Regions from separate parts of the Homo sapiens genome. Here all the other regions are reported to be linked to region 2. The links are microRNA targets in miRTarBase. Many come from high-throughput screens and were not tested one by one. Region 2 holds a microRNA gene; each other region holds the end of a gene's coding sequence.
Evidence for each region. The annotated mature microRNA hsa-miR-548ah-5p reads AAAAGUGAUUGCAGUGUUUG and lies in region 2 at 2,124-2,143, opposite strand. An mRNA with a match to its seed (bases 2 to 7 or 8) in the 3' UTR can be bound and repressed. Matches are read on the target gene's strand: a 7mer-m8 pairs with bases 2 to 8, a 7mer-A1 pairs with bases 2 to 7 and ends in A, and an 8mer does both.

Region 1 (3,098 bases), not on the chromosome of region 2:
AGGAAACATTCCTTTTGTACAAATCAGAAGTATCTTAAAAATCAACCTTAACACCAAAATATACATGTAATTTTAACTTGGTTTAGGAAAACATGAAAGAACTGTCACATTTTGGTGTGAACAAGGTTCTGAAAACCCCCTATCAGAGGTCTCATTCACTTTTTTCCACATATCACTTGAAGGTTTTGAAACTGGTAAAAACAGAATTCAGCTCGATGTACATCAAAACTTTAACAGTTCTGAAAAAGACGTATTTCGTAAGGGCCAAAATGTACAGCACAGCAATATTACAATGTTACAGTATAAATATGTCAAGCCAATTTGTAATAAAATAAGACAGTTGTCTTCAAAAGAGCTGTTTGACTATAGAGCAACCAAATAGATCTAGAACATCTTTGGAAAAACCACAAAGTGCCTTTACAGAAAGTTAAGTTTAGACTACACTTAATTAAAAGATAATACTCTAAACTCAAAATTATTTTCTCTATATGAGGAATTTTGACACTTGTTTTCACACCTGCCAATATTCAATATTTTTAACTCACACTTCTTTTCATACATCTGCCAATATTTAATATTTTATTCTATGCCCCTGCACTGAATTGATGTAAGTGTGAAGTTCCACTATTATTATTACCACACATGCTAATACCTAATAACTGGTCTGTCATTATGTAGTGGTTAAATAAGCAAATGCTGAACTCAGCACAGCTCTAGCAAAATGCAAAGGAAATAAGAAAAGCCTCACCTCAGAATGATTACACCATAAACAGAAATAAACATTTTCAAACACAAAGTTTCACAAAATAATATATCATCACTTTAAAAGAAATTCAGAACTCTATTTTGCTGTTGATCAAACTTGTGCATACACTCAAGTTACTAAACACAATTTGATAGTTAGATACTTGTAAAAATGCATTCTAAACTTAATAATCAATTAATTCATAATTAACAAGAGCAAACATTCCTAGTCCTAACATTTAAAAAAACCCAGTCCAGTGCTGCCACATCTCAAGTTCTGAAAAGCTAAAGGCAGGAACAATTCTGGTTATACAATTCCTGCATTTCTCCACCTTAAAAAATACTTGAAGAAACTTTAGGAAACTTTATATTAAGGCTTGCTGTATTTCTGTATCTTAAATTGAGAAAAATCAAAACCTACGATGTAACCTCGAATTATTTAAATAGCTTTTGGCATTTTTCTTGAAAAGCAAATTTGAATCTTTCACTATAAAACATTTCTATACCACAATTACTAATTCACATTAATGTGTAAGTGCCCTCATTTCCTATTCCCTGGCAGGCGCTATGTCTTCTTTCTACGTTTTGTGCAGCTTTCAGAACAGTCAGTGCTCAGAAAAAATGAAAACGTAATGGAGCAAAATCAAAGTCCCCAAAAAAAGTGATTTATCCTAGATTACAAAATCCAGTAGTGGAAGAACCAACATTTACACACCCAAATACACACACACCCACACATACACAGGACACAGCGAGAGATGAGAGAGAGTGGGGGGTGGGGGAGGTGAGAGACAGTGGGAGGAGGGGGGAGGGGGAAGAGAGTGGGAGGAGGGGAGAGAGAGTTGCAGGGAGGGAAGAGAGAGACAAAAGCAAGACACAACCTTTGTCCTCTATTCATGTCAACTTGCAGTTTCTGGACACAAACTAGTAGGAAATGTAGAGCCCAGAAAGATCGTGTCAGAGAACTTGACGAGACAGTGTAGATATAGTTTATCTGGGTGGGGCGGGGTGGGGGGAAATCCCAATTTTTCTAAAACAAACAAACAAACAAACAAAAAAAACACCACATTCTTGGTAGAGGTTTTTTCAAAAATCCAACAATAAAAACTACTGGGCTTCTCTAAATGCATTTCCATATTAACATTAATTTTTAAAATTTCAACATGTTTTACAATTTAAGTTTTCACTTGTAAGATAAGTTGGGAACCCAAAATTGTCAAAAAAAATTTTAATTATTGTCAATAAAAATTCTTACTGCACAATCTTTATAGGCGTTTTATTTTAAAGCACCTTTTTAAATTTTAACAGTGGGTTTCTAAAAAGAAAACAGTAAAATAAAAGAGGGAACAAACTGGCAAGGTTAAAGTACTCCCTTACACACACACACACACACACACACACACACACACACACACACACCTTTCATGCCAGAATGACTGGCAGCATTGGCAAATAATGTCAATGAAAGGATGGGGGAAACTATCACTTATAGTGTTTATAGAAACCTAAAATACTAATGTTTCTGCTAAGAAATTAAATAGTTTGGGGAAATCAAAAAGCTACCAATAGCTGATCTATGAAATATGAAAATGAAACTGATTTTTAAAAACAGGAAAGGCCAAAAATCTACTAGAAATTTTTAAAAATCAGCCTCAATTTTATTTTCTGATGTCAGACTAGTTATTAATTAGATACCATTTGTTTGCAAAGGAGCAAAATTATAACTCTATCACTGGAACCTATCCTCAGCCACTTCAGTGCAGTTTCTAGCAGCACTATTTGGATACAAAAAGAATGTGGTCAGACAATGCCCCTGAAAACCCCCTGGTTAGACCTTCCTTCAAATACATGTTCTTAGGGTCTTGACACACTACACATGTGTATAGAAGAATAAATGAAGGTAGTATTTTGACAGATTACAAAAGTATGAACTATATACACCGAGTGATAACACAAAGCGCTCAGAAAGCTATATTTACTTGCCTCCCAACTGACTTACGATGTTAATATTCACTATTCAAATTTTATCCTAAACATCTTTATTGGCTTGTTCCCCTCCCCAAACAAATACTAAAATATACTGGTTTGGGGTTTGCTCTATGCATTTTCCAAGAGCCAATCAAACAGCGACTTGCATCTCTCCTCACTGGAAGCTTTTTCCATCACTTCATAGTATTGAAGCACAGCCTGCAGGAGGTCTCCCACTTTCCATCCTTTCTCTTGTAATTGTTTTGAAAGCTAAGAAAGAAAGATGTGTCAAACATTAACCAAAAACAATTTTATAACAAAGCTTTTATTTTTATTTTCAATATTAGCTGAAACTTAAGAATCCTGCTGTTTACAATTAAATACCG
Region 2 (3,000 bases):
TGTGAAGGAGTTATAGGGGACTTGTCTTGAACCTGTGTTACGCATAATAAGTTCAGATTTTACCTAGACTGGAGCATTTTTCTAAAGATTCTTTAATTCATCCTTTAACAAGATTGATAAACGTGAATTGTTATATTAAAGAATATTATTTTATTGGGTAGACAAATAATACAGGAGGCAGAGGTATTGGTCTACAGCCCCACCATCTTCCAATACCAGTCCCTGTCCTTTATTGCTGCCTCTAGGGAGGCTGGAACCATTCACCTGATGCCAAATGATTGGAAGAACAGGGCAATGAAGGGACTTAGAATAATTCCTAGTTAACCAATGTACTGCTGACAACAATACACAGTAAAGAGTAAACAATCAGACCTTCCCCAGCACCTCGTCCCTTTGGTGGATGGGGAAATTTGATTTGCCCATATTTTTAATGTAGAAAGATATAGACCACTAGGAATTAATTTACACAGAGGGCTTTTTAGCCTGTGATATGCGAAAATTTCAAGTATAGATTATCTTTTATCTCAACAGACACACTGACACCGATTACCCTTTTGGAACGCTAGAGTCAGATCTATTTGACCAGCTCCTTCTTATACTTTAGGTAGATCAGAAATTCAATTAAGGTTTGGTGAAATACTCATGTTTACCAGGAGCATTTGTTCCAGTATTCAGTTCTGAACCCTAACCTCCAGGATTACGTTCAATGAATAATCAGCTGAGTTGGCCATGTCACCATTCACCAAATCAATACCTATTGCTTAAACTGTTTTTAACCCAGTTTTTATTTTTGCTTTAATCACCAAAGTCCTTTATTTTTATTTTTAAAAATTTAATTTAAAAATTAAAAATATTTATAACAAAATTTACCATCTTACCCATTTTTTATTTTAACATTTTAATTTTTAATTTTTGTGGTTATAAAGTAGGTGTATACATTTATGGGGTACGTGAGATGTTTTGATACAGGCATGCAACACATAATAATCACATCATGAAGAATGGGGTATCCATCTCCTCAAGCCATTATCTTTTGTGTTACAAACTACCCAACTACACGATTTTAGTTATTTTTAAATGTACAATTACATTATTATGGATTATAGTCACCTTGTTGTGCTATCAAAGAGTAGGTATTAGTCATCCTACCTTTTTGTATGCATTAACCATCCCTACCTCCCCACCAGCCTCCTACTACCCTTCCCAGCCTCTGTAACCATCCTTCTACTCTCTGTGTCCATGAGTTCCATTGTTTTGATTTTTAGATCCCACAAACAAGTGAGAATATGCAAAGTTTGTCTTTCTGTGCCTGGCTCAATTCACTTAACATAGTGATCTCCAGTTTGATCTATGTTGTTGCAAATGGCAGGATCTCATTTTTTTAAATGGCTGAATAATATTCCATTGTGTGTAAGTACCACATTTTCTTTATCCATTCATCTGTTGATGGACACTTAAGTTGCTTCCAAATCTTAGCTATTGTAAAGAATGTTGCAACAAACACAGGAGTCCAGATACCTCTTAGAGGTACTGATTTCCTTTCTTTGGGGTATATACCCCATAGTGGGATTGCTGGATCGTATGGTAGCTTTCTTTTTAGGTTTTTGAGAAACCTTGAACTGTTCTCCGTAGTGGTTGTACTAATTTGCATTCCTACCAACACTGTACGAGGGTTCCCTTTTCTCCACATCCTCACTAGGATTTGTTACTGCCTGTCTTTTGGATATAAGCCATTTTAACGGGGGTGGGATGATATAATATCTCATTGTAGTTTAGATTTGCGTTTCTCTAATAATCAATGATGTTGAGCACATTTTCATATATCTGTTTGCCATTTATATGTCTTCTTTTGAGAAGTTTAACAATATTGATTCTTGCAATTTGTGAACATGGAATATCTTTCCATTTTTTGTATCTTCTTCAACTCCTTTCATCAGTGTATTATATTAATAGTTTTTATTATAGAGATCTTTCACTTATTTGGTTAATTCCTGGGTATTTAATTTTATTTGTGGCTATTGTAAATGGGATTACTTTTTAAATTTCTTGTTCAGATTGTTCACTGTTGGCATATATTGGGCTGGTGCAAAAGTAACTGCAGTTTTTGTCATTACTTTTATTGGCAAACACTGCAATCACTTTTGCACCAACCTAATAGAAATGCTGCTGATTTTGGTATGTTGATTTTGTATCCTGTGACTTGACTGAATTTGTTTATCAATTCTGCTAGTTTTTTTGGTGGAGTCTTTAGGTTTTTCCAAATATAAGATCATCTTATCTGCAAATAAAAATAATTTGCTTTCTTCCTTTTCAGTTTGGATGCCTTTTCTTTCTCTTGTCTAATTGCTCTAGCTAGGACTTCCAGTACTATGTTGAATACCAGTAGTGAAAGTGGGTAGCCTTGTTGTGCTTCAGATCTTAGAGGAAAGGCTTTCAATTTTTTTCCCATTCAGTGTGATACTAGTTGTGGGTCTGTCATCTATGGCTTTTATTATGTTGAAGTATGTTTCTCCTATACCCAGTTTTTTGAAGGACTTTTATCATGAAGGGATGTTTATCATGAAAGGATCAAATGCTTTTTCAGCTTCACTTGAAATGATCATCTGGTTTTGTTCTTCATTCTATTGAGAAGATATATAGTATTGATTGATTTATATATGTTGAGCCATCCTTGCATCCCAGAGATAAATCCCGCTTGGTTGTGATGAATGATCTTGTTGGTGTACTATTGAATTTGGTTTGCTGGTATACCCGTTTTTTAAGGGTGCACTTCAGTGGCATTAAGTATATTCCCATTTTTGTAGATCCAATGTCCAGAACTCTTTTCATCTCGCAGAACTGAAACTCTGTACCTACTCAACAAAACTCCCTAATCTCCCCTCCCCCAACCTGTGGCAACTGCCATTCTACATTTTTTGTGTATGAATTTGACTACCCTGGGTACCTTATACAAGTGGAATCATTTACAGTATTTGTCTTTTTGTGACTGGCTTATTTCAC
Region 3 (3,080 bases), not on the chromosome of region 2:
CTCTTCAACATGTAGGTGGCCTCAGAGCCTGAACATGCGCCAGTCACTATCTACCTTCAGCTCAGAGAATCCATCAGATGGGGAGGAAGGCACAGCTAGTGAACCTTCCCCCAGTGGCACACCTGAAGTTGGCAGCACCAACACTGATGAGCGGCCAGATGAGCGGTCTGATGACATGTGCTCCCAGGGCTCAGAAATCCCACTGGACCCACCTCCTTCAGAGGTCATCCCTGGCCCTGAACCCAGCTCCCTGCCCATTCCACACCAGGAACTTCTCAGAGAGCGGGTGAGTGGCACAACAGCAAAAAGCAGATATTGAACAGGGAGAGCTGTAAGCAGATGCCTTGTCTTTTAACAGCTTTTGGGGAGACAGCTGCACAGGCCAGAAAGTACCATAAAGAGCAAATATCCACGTGGTGGAATTTCAGAAGCCTCTTGCACAGAGCATCTATTACGATGCCTGACCAGTAGCTTGCATGTAGCTATAAATTGCAGCCAGGGAATGATTCTGAAAGGAGTCTGACACCTTGGAGAATGGCCTGAGCAACTGAAATCTGGAAGGAATAAAACCAGTAAGCTGGCTGGGCATGGTGACTCACGCCTGGAATCCCAGAACTTTGGGAGGCCGAGGCGGGTGGATCACAAGGTCAGGAGTTCAAGACCAGCCTGACCAATATGGTAAAACCCCATCTCTATTAAAAGTACAAAAATTAGCTGGGCGTGGTGGTGCATGCCTGTAGTCCCAGCTACTCAGAAGGCTGAGGCAGAAGAATTGCTTGAACCTGGGAGGCAGAGGTTGCAGTGAGCCGAGATTGTGCTACTGCACTCCAGCCTGGGCGAGAGTGAGACTCTGTCTTAAAAAACAAATCAGTAAGCCACTGGCTATTAAAATGACCCCAGCAAAGAACCCCAAGGAATCTCACTCCATTTCTACTCTTTCTCACAGGGCCCTCCCAATTCTGAGGACTCAGACTGTGACAGCACTGAATTGGACAACTCCAACAGCGTTGATGCCTTGCGGCCCCCAGCTTCCCTCCCTCCATGAAAGCCACTCGTATTCCTTGTACATAGAGAAATATTTATATAAATTATATATATATACATATATATATATATATGCGCCACATAATCAACAGAAAGATGGGGCTGTCCCAGCCGTAAGTCAGGCTCGAGGGAGACTGATCCCCTGACCAATTCACCTGATAAACTCTAGGGACACTGGCAGCTGTGGAAATGAATGAGGCACAGCCGTAGAGCTGTGGCTAAGGGCAAGCCCCTTCCTGCCCCACCCCATTCCTTATATTCAGCAAGCAACAAGGCAATAGAAAAGCCAGGGTTGTCTTTATATTCTTTATCCCCAAATAATAGGGGGTGGGGGGAGGGGCGGTGGGAGGGGCAGGAGAGAAAACCACTTAGACTGCACTTTTCTGTTCCGTTTACTCTGTTTACACATTTTGCACTTGGGAGGAGGGAGGCTAAGGCTGGGTCCTCCCCTCTGAGGTTTCTCAGGTGGCAATGTAACTCATTTTTTTGTCCCACCATTTATCTTCTCTGCCCAAGCCCTGTCTTAAGGCCCAGGGGGAGGTTAGGAGACTGATAGCATGTGATGGCTCAGGCTGAAGAACCGGGGTGCTGTTTAAGTCCCTGCTTTTATCCTGGTGCCTGATTGGGGTGGGGACTGTCCTACTGTAACCCCTGTGAAAAACCTTGAAATATAACACTCCATGCAGGCCCAGCTGTTGAGGGTTTTCTTGATGAATGAATGGGGTACCATACATGGTTAAGATAAAGCCTTGGGCTCCGGACTTTATCTGAGGTGTCTGGAGAAGTTCTCCTGCCCCTCCACTTTTTTGCATCTACTCTCACTAAATGAGTATAATGTCAAGCCCCAACTTTCTAAAATTATAGGAATAAATGGTAGCAGATACATCCTTCTAACTTGTTATGGAGGACTATAAATGAAGTTACTAAAAACAATAGACTGAAATTTTTAGTTTAAAATATGCAAGCCTGAACAAGGGGACCAACATTCCCAAGAAACTGGAACCCAGTCAGACATATGATCAACTGCTTAATGTGTATGCCATGTATGTCATGTGTCATTCCTTTCCCCCACCCCCTCCCTAGTGGAAGTGCTTGCCTACTCCCCTAGGACAGGTAAGTCCTCGGAAAGTCTAATCCTCAATCTTTTGGGCACAAGTTTTATAAGGGCCAACCAAGCATGGAGTCAGGGAAAAATAGGATCGAGGGCCACAAAAAAAGATGGAAGTGGTAAAATAGAAGAAAACATCTTAACCGGAATAAAGGCTTCCATTCAAAACCCAAGAAGGGTCCTTTGAGGGATAAAAGGTACAAAAATAACAGCAAGACAAGAGGAATAAAACCCACATGAATCACTGTGGCATCCAGTTTCTATTCACAAAGAAAAAGCTCCAGTCCATCTTTTAATTTTTTTGAAAAATTCCTGACATTACAGAACTAAACTGAAATGTATTAATATTCCACTCTTACATTTCCATGACAAACAGAAAAATTCATGAGCCAAAAAAAAAAAACCAGGGAGAAGCTTATAAAACTAAATATGGATCTCAGCATCAACAGCTGAACAGAGAAAGGAATTAAAACGCTTTAATTAAAAAATCACGAGTGGATGATAAAGTGTGTAGAAACTGAAAATTTACAAACTATTTAAAACCTGGAATCGCTGACTGTTCAGAAACTACACAGATGGATCATGGGTGGTGGTGAACAGCAGAAAGGGATTATGGATGAATCTGCATTGTTCTAGCTGCTCCCCATGCCACCCGTCTCCGAGGAAAGCCTGTAACACAGAAACAAGAACTCAGTTAGTTTCCCCAGTGCTCAGCTGCACCTCATCTCTACCTGGTTCATGAAATGTGAAGAGTAAATAACCAGTGCTGGAGTACCAAGGGAGACATTTTAAGGTTTCTTAAATTTACCAGTACCATGATCCTTTAATCCTTGCAATTCAAGCATGTGGAGGTCTATTACCTCAGAACCAAGGGAAACAGCCCTTGTTATCCAATGTCCCTCAAACTATGTTCTCTTTTAGTTCCACC
Region 4 (3,098 bases), not on the chromosome of region 2:
ACTTTTTACAACAGAATGTGATTTTATTTTTATGTTTTTCTTCATAAGGTCCCAAAGAACTTCAAGTACTTCTAATATAAGCTGAACTGATTAGATTTCATTAATGGAATTACATATTTATGAAGGAAATACAAATTCTCAGTCCAGGATTTAAGTATTTCTCTTAAAGAATTCTACCTGGGATTATGATTAACTTAAAATAAAGAACCCAGATGTGCCAGCTCTGGGCAGATTTTGTGCCAGCTTTAGGCAGCTTCAGATTTTGAAGCTTTGTGGAGGCAGAAGTCTCTCCATATTCAGATACATGACATTGGCTGTAAGAGCAACTGAGGGCACTAAATAGTGATCACGTTTCAAATACAGAATTTATAATTAATTTTAAATTAATTTTCAGATTTAGTACTAAAGAACTTGACCAGATCAATGGATCCAAAGGATGTGCTTATTTTCAAAAAGGAAATATTTATATTTCTCGCTGTAGTGCTGAAATTTTTTGGATTTGCGAGAAGACAGCTGCCCCAGTGAAGACTGAGGATTTGGATTAGTATGCTTCTTCCAAATTCTCCAAGAAGTAAGAGACTTGTGAGTAAGCTCATATGAGGAAAGAGGAAACTACGGTACCAGAGCCAAACCAGCTTTTAAAATGACTGTGTATTTACATTATCAGACAAATGAACTTGTTTAACAGAACATTCTCCAGTTCCTTGTCTGACGTCTTCTGATTTGATGTTATTATTCGGTCTTAAAATTATACCTGGGGACAAAGGGGAATAGCCATACTATGGCCCTATGATTGTCTCAGAATCATTTCACTGAATTTCTTTGCTTTCTCAAATAAAGACTCCTTTCTTTCATTATTATTATACTGTCACGTGTGCACTAGGGTGATATTTAAATATTTAAAAACTAGGGTGATATTTAAATATTTAAAAACACAGGCCACAGCACTAGAACAAGGTCCAAGAGATGCCTGTTGTGATAGTTGCTGGGTCATGTGGAGGTCTGGGGGATCCCAGGCTAAGGGTCCTGGTAGCTGGGGCTGCAGCACTGTATCAACTGATTTGGAAATATTTTATTTTAGCAAATGTTTGTACCACTGTGAACCAGCTAAGTGTCGCCCTGCACTTGCAAAATAGCTTTTCTTCTCCAACAACCCTATGAAAATAAGCGTTCTTATTAATCTTTAAAATTTAGATAATTTATAATCTAGGCATAATAATTTAATATTTACTTTTTTTTGAGACACTGTCTCACTCTGTTGCCTAGGCTGTAGTATTGTGATGTGATTGGCTCACTGCAGCCTCAATCTCCTGGGCTCAATCGATCCCTCCCACCTCAGCCTCCCGAATACCTGGGACCACAGGCATGCAACACCATGCTCAGCTAATTTTTGTATTTTTTTGTAGAGACGAGGTTTCACCATGTTGCCCAGGCTGGTCTCAAACACCTAGGCTCAAGCTATCTGCCAGCCTCAGCCTCCCAAAATCCTGGGATTACAGGTGTGAGCCACTGCCCCTGGCCAATATTTATGTGTTTGTCATTTATTTAAATTAGTAATATTGATGTTATTGATTTTGTAATCTGGGTATTATTATAAAAATATATTCTCTTACAATTGATATTTTGTTTCCCTCAGAAAAGTCCTAATAAACTGTTTGAAGACATCAAAATAGAAGAACCATTATCTTTAATTATTTAGACCTTTCCTGAATCACAGTTTGTCAGTGTTCCTGCACACTAGATGCTAAATATTGTAAATCTAGGGTTCAAGATTTTTCCTGGAACAAAATTGCTGATTTCAGAGTACTGGTAAAGGATGTAGTTTTCCATTTATCTTCACATAGTTCCATAGCTATATATAGGAAGAAAATAATGATAAATTAGCCTTTGATACTGATTTTGCTAGATCAGAAATCTAGAATTTACTGGAAAATTGATATAATCTAAATTCAAAGTTAGATGCATTTCAATACTTTGACAGTCCTTTGAAACTACCACTTCATACATACCATCTAGTAGCTTCTTATTCTCTAAATATTTAAAATTATCAACTAATCAATGTTTTATATAGGCACCAACAGAAACTCTAGAACAAAGGAAAAATGTCAAGTGTGAAAATTTAGTAAAAATTACAAACAATATATTTAAGCACAACTTTTTAAATACAGACAATTATCATAGTTCAAGTAAACAGTGTTTCTTAGTTCTTATACGGGATTCAAACATAAGTTATATACACATGGATTAAAGAAGAAACTTGATTCTTCCATTTCTCTTTAGCAGTTTGCCCCTGGCATTCTCACAAAGATAAAATTATTTCTTAAAGGTCAAAATCTGTGCCTCTGACTCTCACACATTTGGGTTTCGTTTTATTCCCATGAGAAAAATAAGTTCTTTCATTCCTCTATTTCTAATTAAAAAAATCTACTTTTAATAATTAAAATACCTTAGTTGGTTATTTTGTTCCTATTAAGAAGTTACAGGTTTTTTTTTCTGGTATCTTGTATATTTTAATTCTCATTTCATGTAAACTCTTTTATACTCATTAAAAGAAAATTTCTGTTTCTGACCTTACAGTGCTCTGGATCTTGATCAGCTCCTATTACTAAGAGCTCCCTCCCTGCTGCCCTGCTATCATCATATTATCCCTGACGACCTCTACAGTAGATGCATAAATCCAGAGTTCTCAAGATTCACTAGCCCTTTGTGTCAGAATACTTCATCCTTTGATTCTGATAACTTAGCTTATGAGACAGGACTTGATTCCAGAAATTTTCATCTCTTTCTTTTTCTTTCTTTCTTCCTCTCCTACTGCCCCTACACCCTCTCCAGTCAAAATCCCTGAGATATTTTATTTATATATACAGGTATATACAAATGGTATATTTTTAGGGGAAAGACCATTGATATGGTTTGGATCTGTGTCCTTACCAAATCACATGTCAAGATGTAATCCCCAATGCTGGTTGTGGGGCCTGGTGGGAGGTGATTGGGTTATGGGAGCAGATTTCTCATGAATGACTTAGCACCATCTTCTTGGTGCTGTTCTCATGATAGCGAGTTCTCGCAAGATCCGGTTGTTTAAAAGTGTGTAGCAT
Region 5 (3,098 bases), not on the chromosome of region 2:
AGGTCAGATGTTTATGAATGTTCATCTATGCTTTATTTTCTAGGATAAATCTATAAGCACAAGTTTACCTGTCCTAGATTTAATAGATGCCATTGCACCAAATGCAGTTCGTCAAGAAATGATCAGGAGAGAAAACTTATCTGATGAGGACAAGCTGAACAATGCTAAGTAAGCCTTTATGGTTTATATTACAATACATGGCCCTTTAATTCTCTAAAATCCTTATAGGAAAAGTTACTATGCCCTTAAAATTCATATTTTTAAATATAACTTATATGTGAGTCTTAGATTTAAGACTCACAAACTTAACCTTTTCGTAAAACTAATCTTGTCAAAATATTTCACTCTTTTGTTAAAATATGTTAAGTGAAAACACAGTGGATAACACCAAGATATTTTTCTTGTCTCTTCAAGATACGCCATTTCAGTTGCTCGAAAGATCGGTGCCCGGATATATGCATTACCTGATGACCTCGTAGAAGTGAAACCAAAGATGGTTATGACGGTGTTTGCATGCTTAATGGGAAAAGGACTGAACAGAATAAAATAATCATTTCATATGATTTTCTGCCACATTAAACATATTGTATGCCTCACAGTTTACAGGATTCTGAAATGTAGTGGGTGTAAAACCAGAGATTATTTGTATGCTCAAAATAGTTATATATTCATTAATGAATTCAATATCCTGTTCATACTAGTTAGAGCTGGTCAGCCTTTTTGGGTAACACAGTTAATTTACCAACTGATACAGATAATAGAATATATTCATAATCAAGCTGATACTTCATGATTAAATTATTTTTGTTGCTTAAAAGTCGTATTAGACAAGACTAAATCATTCTTTTTTATGGTTCAAAAAAGATGAATACAAACGTTTTTGCAGGTTCTGCTGTGAAATGTGGTTTGATTTTTTTGGTGTGTTAATTTTGATCATAAATGCATTCATACTCATAATCCAGTTTAATCCTTTTATTTGCTTCCTCCAACTATTTAAAGTGGTCCAAAAACACTTTTCTGTAAGTTTCTATACTGTCTAAAACCTTATGGTGACCAGAATTGTTTATTAATATCAAACTTTTTTATATATGAGAACTAATTCTTGAATAAACCCCAAAGTTCACTCTCTTGTTTAAGTAGCAGCAGCTTTTTACTTAAAATTTAATTTTAACTACATTGATACTTTACACATCCTAGTTTGGTAACACAGCTTTAACTATGTCATGCAACATATATATGTTGGTAGGATGTTATTAGAGAGATATGTGTGCATATATATTTTTTTGCACCTGAATCACCCAGCTTTTCATAAGTGGTATGTTTAATTGGTCATTCAGCCAACCATCAGTATTTTCCCCCCACAACATGTGTAACACTTTTCAGTCTGTGGATATCTGATACATTAAGATTTCTTTTTATAAGTATTCATTTTGAATGTGCATATAGTTATTTGACCCCTTCCAAATACTTGTAGCCAAACATTGGCTAGAACATCCCAAGATATGCTGACACTGTCCTGTTAGCTTCATATTATACTTGCTAGTTTAGGTCTCTATAGAAGCCCTATATAATTTAGAATATGCCCACTGAATATCTTTAATAGAAAGTAACATAAAGCTAGTATTCAATGTAGAGTATTTTCATATGTTTTTCACAGCCCGTTACAAATTGGCAATGTTTGGTTAATGTTTGTATTACTTGGAAATCGCTACAGCTTGGACTATTTTTTTCTAAATTTTTAGCATTAGTCCATTTCTGCTGCTAACAATTGAATCCAGAAATCTACTTTCTCCATCTTCCACTGTTAGTGCCAGTGAGCAATACTGTTGTGCAACAAAAATGTCACTTTATCTCAGTGTGAATGAGTAGTCTAAATTCCCTTTCTACCATTGATTTAAATATATATATTGGTAAGAGAGACTGCCCATGTGTTTAGAATAGAATTTTTTAAATGAAATGATCAACAGGTGGAATTTGAAATATATTCTTCTACAAAAGAGATTTCTTTCCCTTTTATATTTTGATGATTGTTTTCTTAAGATTAAGATATGTTCTTGCTCTTTTATAAGATTATTTAAATTATGTTTCCCTCTGATTTTTTTTCACCATTGTATTTACTAAGTTATTGGATTTACATGAAATCTGGCACTTTAGGGTGTTCTTTTTCTCACAGAGTATATTTAATAAAAATGCTGTGTATATAGAAATGTGTTTATATTTATTTCATTTGAAGAAAAATATTCAGCCTTGAAAATTAGTCTAGCATAAGCTTATTTTCCAGAAAAGAAAAGAATTCCTAAATGAGTTAGTAAAACAAAAAAAAAATTGTGTCTGATTTCTTTGAAGATGAGGGTAGTTCTTTTGTTCTTAAATATGAAGAATTATTAAAAACCAACTGTGTGATTACTACAATTTAGTTTGTGCTGAAATAATTCAGGTGAATCAATCCATTCACAAATTTATCATTTATTATGATCCAGATACTATGCTAGACACTGGGGATTCATCTGAAAAAAATACAGATGAAGTCTCCTGACCTCATGTATCACATCCATGTATGATATCCTAGTAGAGAGACAATTCGTAAATAGGAATTTTAGACAGTGATAATGCAGTAGAAGAAATAACATAAGGTAATGTGATAGAGACTGACTTGGGAAATGGAGTGGAGATTATTTGTATTTGGGTGGTCAGGGAAGGTCTCTCTAAGGATATTTGTGCTATAAGTGTTCAGCAGAGAGAACAAATGTAAAGAACCTGAAGCAGGCAGTCCTGTAGGCATCCTAGAAGACAAACAGGTGAACATGACCTGAGAGTACTGAGGGAGAGGCAGAGTCTGGAGATGGAGATGGAGTCTAGGGTATTGTAGGACTAGATCTAAATCTGGATTTTTTTTTTTCTTCTCTGACTGGAGTCATGACTGCTCTTTTGTATATGTGGTTTGGGTAAGCTGCTTGAAGTAATATGCTGCTTCTGAATCTTGGATGCTACTGTTCATCATAACTCTGCCACTGGTCTCTGTATCACCTGTGTAGAAAAAACTGATGATAGGCTGCATAGATTATGTTAAAATACCCCAATTTATGCTGGATAAATAG
Region 6 (3,098 bases), not on the chromosome of region 2:
GAGGGAGCTAATCCAGTAACATACATTCAAAGATTAAATTGCAGATATGCACAGTGTATTTGGCACTGTTCATTAATATTATAACACCTTCCTCTCAAAGACAGGCATTCTTAAGCGTTAGTCACGATATACCAGAATTTGCTATTCACATTAAAACCACCTTTTAAACTTTATAACAGTAACCGATTATTATAGTTTTAAGAAACAAAACACAATGAGAACTGGGAATGGAATTCAAATCCTCCAACTTCTTGCTATGCTCCAAGCTGCCATCCATAAAACAGGTTTAATTCGGTAATTTTTCCATTGTGGGGAGTGTCAACAAGAAACAATTTAAAGACAGTATTTTCCAATACAAATAAAGACACATACTTTTGTTTAAAATTACCAGTTCTTCTTGGGAGTGCAAAGGGAGCCTTGATGATGTACAACTTGTGATGCTTTTGGCAGGAATTACAGAACAACCAATGCCATTCAAGTTGTGGAGATTGTACTAGCAGGTGAACTCATAAAGAGAAGGTTCTGGAATGACTACATCTGAAATCAGAATCCTAGTAGTTTGTAGTTTGCCTCTTCCTAGAACTTCAAGAGACTCAAATCATAGGCTACAGATGTACTTTCAAGTATATACTTATGAATGGAAGGAGAAAATAAAAGCACGAAAATGCAAATATTAAACCTTTACTGGCTTGGGCTATATTCCAGTAGGTAATTTATTTGACTAACTTAACTTTAACAACGATTAAATCCCTTCATTTTAATCAGGTCCATTAAATTTCATTCATTAAAGCTATACATACTCCAGAATGTTTATAAGACATTTATACCTATCATGTTTACAAAAGGCATAAATTCAGTCTTCAGCTGCACTACAAATGCCTCAATATAATATAATCACAGTATAAGGAATCAGAAATTCTCTGGTTAGATATGCTGTAGCTTCACACAAAACTCTCAGTAATAAATTAAAACAAAAAAAAAAAGTCGTACAACGTATAATGGATTATGCAGTGCAAAGTAATGTCACTGGACCAAAATTTAGTTTAATCATTTTTATTTCAAGTGTATTTAAAAAATCATAAATGGGGTTTCATAATCCAAAGTTGAAACATTTATTCTTCATAGCTTCAGAATTTAACAACCAATTGTAGACCATGCTTTCCAAATCCAGTCTTCTTTGCTATTTTTCAAAACTTCTGAGATCTAGTATTAAACTGCTCCATTCTAAATGTATAGTTTTAGATAAGTATTGTACACTTGTTGATAAGGGTTTTCTGAAAGCAGTCTATCAAATATAAAGAATGGTTTCTATCTAAGAATCAGCAGTGAGGGAAGAAATATTAAACACCTATCAAGAAATCAATTATTCATTTTAAAAATAACAGAACCAGTGCTGCTCTCTGTCATAAAAGAGAACATGTAAAATTTATTTTTATAGACTTTGGTAATATTTTATTCCCCCACAGAGGCCTTCAATCCTACTTAAAGATATTTTACACACAGTAACCATCAGGATTTACTGAGTAAAAATCTCAGGTATTAACCATGCCCCTAAAATGTGCTATTCCAAAGAGGAACAGGTTACTTTTGAGGAAAAAAGCTGCCTTGGTAACTTCCCTCAAATGTTTATTTTAAATAAAAATGGTTGATGGAAATATTTTTTAAAAGAACTTTGGGTATAATATGGCATACTGCCCATCAAACAAAAAAGGAAATAAAACTTTCTTTCCATTTATAATAAGTTTTCCACCTTTACTATCAAGATTACAACTTATTGACCTTTTATGCTTGCTTGGTTTTTTTGACTGCCTAATCCAATGTTTAAATTTTTAAGTCTGCATTTCAATGTAGTAGGAGTTATTTTTCAAATAATCTTCAGAACCCAGAATACAGAGCAACTCTCAGAATACCAGAGCAACACTCTCAAGTCATACTTTTGAACCCAGAATACCAGAATACCAGACTTCAGAACCCAGAATACCAGAGCAACACTCTCAAGTCATACTTTTGACTACAATTAAGAGATGAAAATGGACGGATATCTGAAGATAGGTATTCCCTCTGCTCTGAAGGTGAGCAAGATTTTAACATGTGAGCAACACAGAACTCCACTCCTCTGGAGCTCCTTTCAACTCAGAATGCTTCAGTTCAGTAAGTCAATATATTATTCTTAAAAATTAAAGTTTGGTCACTAAGAAGGACTGAACAAAAATTATTCCCCTCCCGCCAAACACAACCAGAACAGTTCTAATCAGGCCCTCTTCTCCCCACAAAAATAGGGAAGTAGCTGGGCTGAAGACTTTAAGTGTGACATTTCAGTTCCTAAAACATCACTGCTATTTGCTCAAAGTTGTAGGTCTATGTATTTCCTTCTCCAATACGTCCCCATTTATAAGTTTATTTCCATACATACAAACGTGCACATGTGTGCACGTGCACACGCACACACACACACTCACTCTCAAGTAAGACACTTTTTTGTGTTTGTTGATAAATTATGAGGATTATGAACTAGGTGTGTACAGGGTTTCATAGGTGCTTTGTAAACATCAGAGTCACTTGGTTCCTTTCCTCCACAAGCCTCAAATCAAATTATGCAACCAATGACCACTACTTTCCCAGACGCTGTTCACAGGCTGCATATTGACGAAGGGCAGAGAAAAAGTCCTCATAACTGATGTTTAGGTGGGAAGGCAAAGAGCTGAAAAGAAAACACGGGGGGAGAAAAGCAATTAGATATACACTGTAATGTAGGGGGGAACCAGAAGATAAGGACCAAAAAGAAGTTAAGAATAGAATACACCAAATTATCCTCCACCAGACAGCACCATGACAGGCACGGAAAATGTCTTAATCATAATATGTAGACTGAAAGGGTGGGGCCCTGACAGAACTGACTGGGAAATAGCAGAGAGCCTCTGAGGCACCGAGGGGTAGTGGCACTCACTGTTTATTGACGAGTGTTCATTGAAGATAGCTATTCCCTCTGCTCTGAGGGTAAATTATAAGCAGAATATGCCAAACAATTCTACTAAGATTGTTCAGCTCATTGTGGACAATGAGATGACAAGGACACACAATGTCATCATCAACTAAAA
Region 7 (3,091 bases), not on the chromosome of region 2:
TCTCCGCAGAGGCAAGCAAAGAGGCAGCCTTGGCAAACCAGGAAGTCTGGGAAGAGACCCAGGGCATGGCGCCCCCCAGCCGGTGGTATTTCAATCAAGACAGTGCCTGCAGAGAATCTGGGGGAGCACCCAAGAACACGCCCCTGTCTGAGGACGACAACCCGGGTGCCTCGTCAGCCCCCGCTCAGGCCACGTTCATCAGCCCAAGCGAAGATTTTTCTTCAAGCAGCCAGGCAGAAGTCCCGCCCTCTCTCTCTCGTTCAGGGAGGGACTTGTCATGACTCATGGTTACATTCAGGATACTTGAGCACTTTATATACTACCGTAGCACTGTAGCTATTTTTTATGTGATAATCTTGTTTGATAAAAAAGTAAACCTGTTTTGCAATTGAAGCCTCCATTTTCTATGAAGGGGCCAGTTGGAAGACCTGTGTTTTCTCAAGTTCTTCTGGATGACTGGTCCTGAAATTCCGGGCCTCCACGACATGCCCAGTATCCCACTTTCAAGATGATTTCATGTCCTTCAGTCACAAGGGTGGTTTTGGGACAGCAAGTTAAGAATTGTCCCTCGAGTGGACATACTTTATTTACTTTTTTAGGGAAATGCAATTCTTTATTGGAACTCAAGTTTGTGTCTGTAAACATTCAACAGAAGGGGTAAAACAAGAACAATCCACATCATCCTTCCCCTGGCCCCAGCTTCTGGGGCTGAAGTAGGGAGCTTCCACTTTAACCCGACTGGCTCTGGCTCCAGGGCCTGAGATGCCTTCGTAATCTGGCAACTGGGTCCCAGGCAGCCTTGAGAAACTGCTGGGTCCCTGCCTTGCTGGCAGCTTCGGGAGGTCTCTGGGTCCCCATCTCGCTGGCAGCTTGAGAGACTGCAGGGTCTCGTCCTTCCACACCTCCACCAGGGAACCCTGGGTCCCGCCCTCCAGGACGTCCACCACTGGGTCCCGGCATCCCGCACCTCGACTGGAGGGGACATATTTCAGTTCCAGTCTCGGTAGTTGTCACTGGGAGATGCTCAGGCTCTTGCCATAAACCCCATCTGTGCTCCACTGGGACTTTGGCCCAGAACATTTTCCTCCAACCAGCTCTCCAGCTTCCACCCCACGCGGTGTGGGCTTTGGGAACTTACTGATCCCCAGGTCACATTTCCAATTCGTATTGCTGGAGGTGTGGGTTTTGTTGCCTGGTTTGTCTTTGTTTGGTTTTAGACAGGGCTTGCTCTGTCTTCTGGGCTGGAGTGCGACGAATCTGCCTGGTTGTCCCCAGTGAGTCCAGGTTGGGTTTCATGTTGTAGTGTCTGCCTTCAGCTTTTAAAATTTCTGCAAACTGGGGCAAATACAGCAGACTTGTCTGGAGCCCTTTAATATTGAGGGACCCCACGCAGTTGCTTCAGTTCAGCCAACGCTTCCATAGTGCTGTTTGTTTTTTTTTTTTTAATTTTGAGACAGAATCTTGCTCTGTCGCCCAGCCTGGAGTGCAGTGACATGATCTCGGCTCACCGCAACCTCTGCTGCCTCCTGGGTTCGAGCAATTCTCCTGCCTCAGCCTCCCAAGTAGCTGGGACTACAGGTGTGCACCACTGCACCCAACTAATTTTTGTATTTTTAGGAGAGATGGGGTTTCACCATATTGGCCAGGCTGCTTTCCAACTCCTGGCCTCAACTGACCTGCCTACCTCAGCCTCCTAAAGTGTTGCGAGCCACCGTGCCTGGCCCATAGTGCTGTCTCATCTTAACACCTTCGTTCATCCTATGAATGAATGTCCATTCTAGGGATTTAGGAGTTACGTGCCAGGAACTGTGGACAAAGACCAAAGAAGTTTTTATTATACCCCAAGGGGATATCATTAAATCCACATGAGCAGATAAAAGAGGATGTCTTTGGGCCAGGCACGGTGGCTCATGCCTGTAATCCCAGCACTTTGAGAGGCCAAGGCGGGCAGATCATTTGAGGTTTGGAGTTTGAGAACAGCCTGACCAACATGGTGAAACCCTCTGTCTACTAAAAATAGAAAAATTAGCTGGGCGTGGTGACACGTGCCTGTAGTGCCAGCTACTCTGGAGGCTGAGGCAGGAGAATCACTTGATCACAGGAAGCAGAGATTGTAGTGAGCCAAGATCACACCACTGCCACTCCAGCCTGGGTGACGGAGTGAGACTCAGATTTAAAAAAAAACAAAAACCCAAGACTAGGCAGCATATGAATATGATAGATGTTATGTGCAAGATTAACAAGCGATGTCTTAACATATAAAACTTGACTCATTTGGAACTAAAATCCTGCTCTATGTTTTCTGAATTGGGCACTGCCACAGGACACACATTGAAAAAAATACTTCATTACATCACAGTCTTGACCTCCAACAGCAGAGACCCTAGAATCTATCATCTAAGCCGGGCACCGCTGAGAGTCAACAGGAGTGGTGGATTCCACCCACAGGTGGAAATGGGCGGCACATGCCCGACTCTGTAAGGCTGACGTCCCTACTTCATGAGAATTGAGTTTGATTTTAGATAATGAATGAATTCGGCTCATGGTCTCCACACCCACGCCTCCAGGGGATGTGTCCTGGACACAGCCTGTGTCCTCCCATGGCTTGCAAGGGAACCTACTGCTCAAAATGACCACCATCATCTCCTGACATCCCTGGCCATGGGGCTAGGATGGTCAGACTTAGAATCCCCAGAGTTGTGACTACAAGGAAGTAAAGCCAGATGGTCTGTGTCTCACTGACTCAATTATTTTTTGGATTGACCTTGGTGCACAAAAGCAACCACGGGCAATATAGAAAGGAAGGATAAGGCTGGGCACAGTGGCTCTCACCTGTAATCCCAGCACTTTGGGAAGCTAAGGTGAGAGGATCGCTTGAGCCCAGGAAGTCGAGGCTGCAGTGAGCCACGTTTGCACCACTGCGCTCCAGTCTGGGCGACAGAGTGAGACCCAGTTTGTTTGTTTTTGAGATGGAGTCTCACTCTGTCACCCAGGCTGGAGTGCAGTGGTATGATGGTGTGATCTCAGCTCACTGCAACCTCCACCTCCCGGGTTCGAGCAATTCTCCTGCCTCAGCCTCCCGAGTAGCTGG

Region 1: miRTarBase lists AKAP11 as a target of hsa-miR-548ah-5p. Seed matches in the 3' UTR shown: 7mer-m8 at 1,403-1,409.
Region 3: miRTarBase lists PCBP2 as a target of hsa-miR-548ah-5p. Seed matches in the 3' UTR shown: 7mer-A1 at 2,655-2,661.
Region 4: the mRNA of CLEC12B is a reported target of hsa-miR-548ah-5p. The part of its 3' UTR that is shown has no 7-base or 8-base seed match.
Region 5: the mRNA of PLS1 is a reported target of hsa-miR-548ah-5p. Seed matches in the 3' UTR shown: 8mer at 1,843-1,850 and 7mer-A1 at 2,147-2,153.
Region 6: the mRNA of NUS1 is a reported target of hsa-miR-548ah-5p. The part of its 3' UTR that is shown has no 7-base or 8-base seed match.
Region 7: miRTarBase lists HAUS8 as a target of hsa-miR-548ah-5p. Seed matches in the 3' UTR shown: 7mer-A1 at 309-315.

What each region holds. Positions count from the first base shown.
Region 1 is chr13:42,318,972-42,322,069 of GRCh38, reverse strand. It overlaps AKAP11 (A-kinase anchoring protein 11), which reads right to left. Exons shown (of 13, transcript NM_016248.4): 13 at 1-2,982. The coding sequence ends at 2,842. Among named protein-coding and RNA genes, the nearest start is that of AKAP11, 48 kb to the right of the region's middle.
Region 2 is chr4:76,574,704-76,577,703 of GRCh38, reverse strand. It overlaps MIR548AH (microRNA 548ah), which reads right to left and starts at 2,153; the gene lies at 2,078-2,153. All of the region lies in intron 2 of SHROOM3 (shroom family member 3), which reads right to left.
Region 3 is chr12:53,479,147-53,482,226 of GRCh38, reverse strand. It overlaps PCBP2 (poly(rC) binding protein 2), which reads right to left. Exons shown (of 15, transcript NM_031989.5): 15 at 1,065-2,821. The coding sequence ends at 2,785. MAP3K12 (mitogen-activated protein kinase kinase kinase 12) reads left to right here. Exons shown (of 14, transcript NM_001193511.2): 13 at 16-286; 14 at 947-2,558. The coding sequence ends at 1,045. Among named protein-coding and RNA genes, the nearest start is that of PCBP2-OT1, 16 kb to the right of the region's middle.
Region 4 is chr12:10,017,937-10,021,034 of GRCh38, forward strand. CLEC12B (C-type lectin domain family 12 member B) reads left to right here. Exons shown (of 6, transcript NM_001129998.3): 6 at 395-860. The coding sequence ends at 545. All of the region lies in intron 2 of LOC102724020 (a long non-coding RNA gene), which reads right to left. Among named protein-coding and RNA genes, the nearest start is that of CLEC12B, 8.9 kb to the left of the region's middle.
Region 5 is chr3:142,711,458-142,714,555 of GRCh38, forward strand. PLS1 (plastin 1) reads left to right here. Exons shown (of 16, transcript NM_001145319.2): 15 at 44-168; 16 at 415-2,207. The coding sequence ends at 550. Among named protein-coding and RNA genes, the nearest start is that of TRPC1, 11 kb to the right of the region's middle.
Region 6 is chr6:117,706,528-117,709,625 of GRCh38, reverse strand. NUS1 (NUS1 dehydrodolichyl diphosphate synthase subunit) reads right to left here. Exons shown (of 5, transcript NM_138459.5): 5 at 1-2,701. The coding sequence ends at 2,611. Among named protein-coding and RNA genes, the nearest start is that of NUS1, 33 kb to the right of the region's middle.
Region 7 is chr19:17,047,063-17,050,153 of GRCh38, reverse strand. It overlaps HAUS8 (HAUS augmin like complex subunit 8), which reads left to right. Exons shown (of 11, transcript NM_033417.2): 11 at 1-425. The coding sequence ends at 281. Among named protein-coding and RNA genes, the nearest start is that of CPAMD8, 22 kb to the right of the region's middle. RefSeq lists an enhancer at 41-335.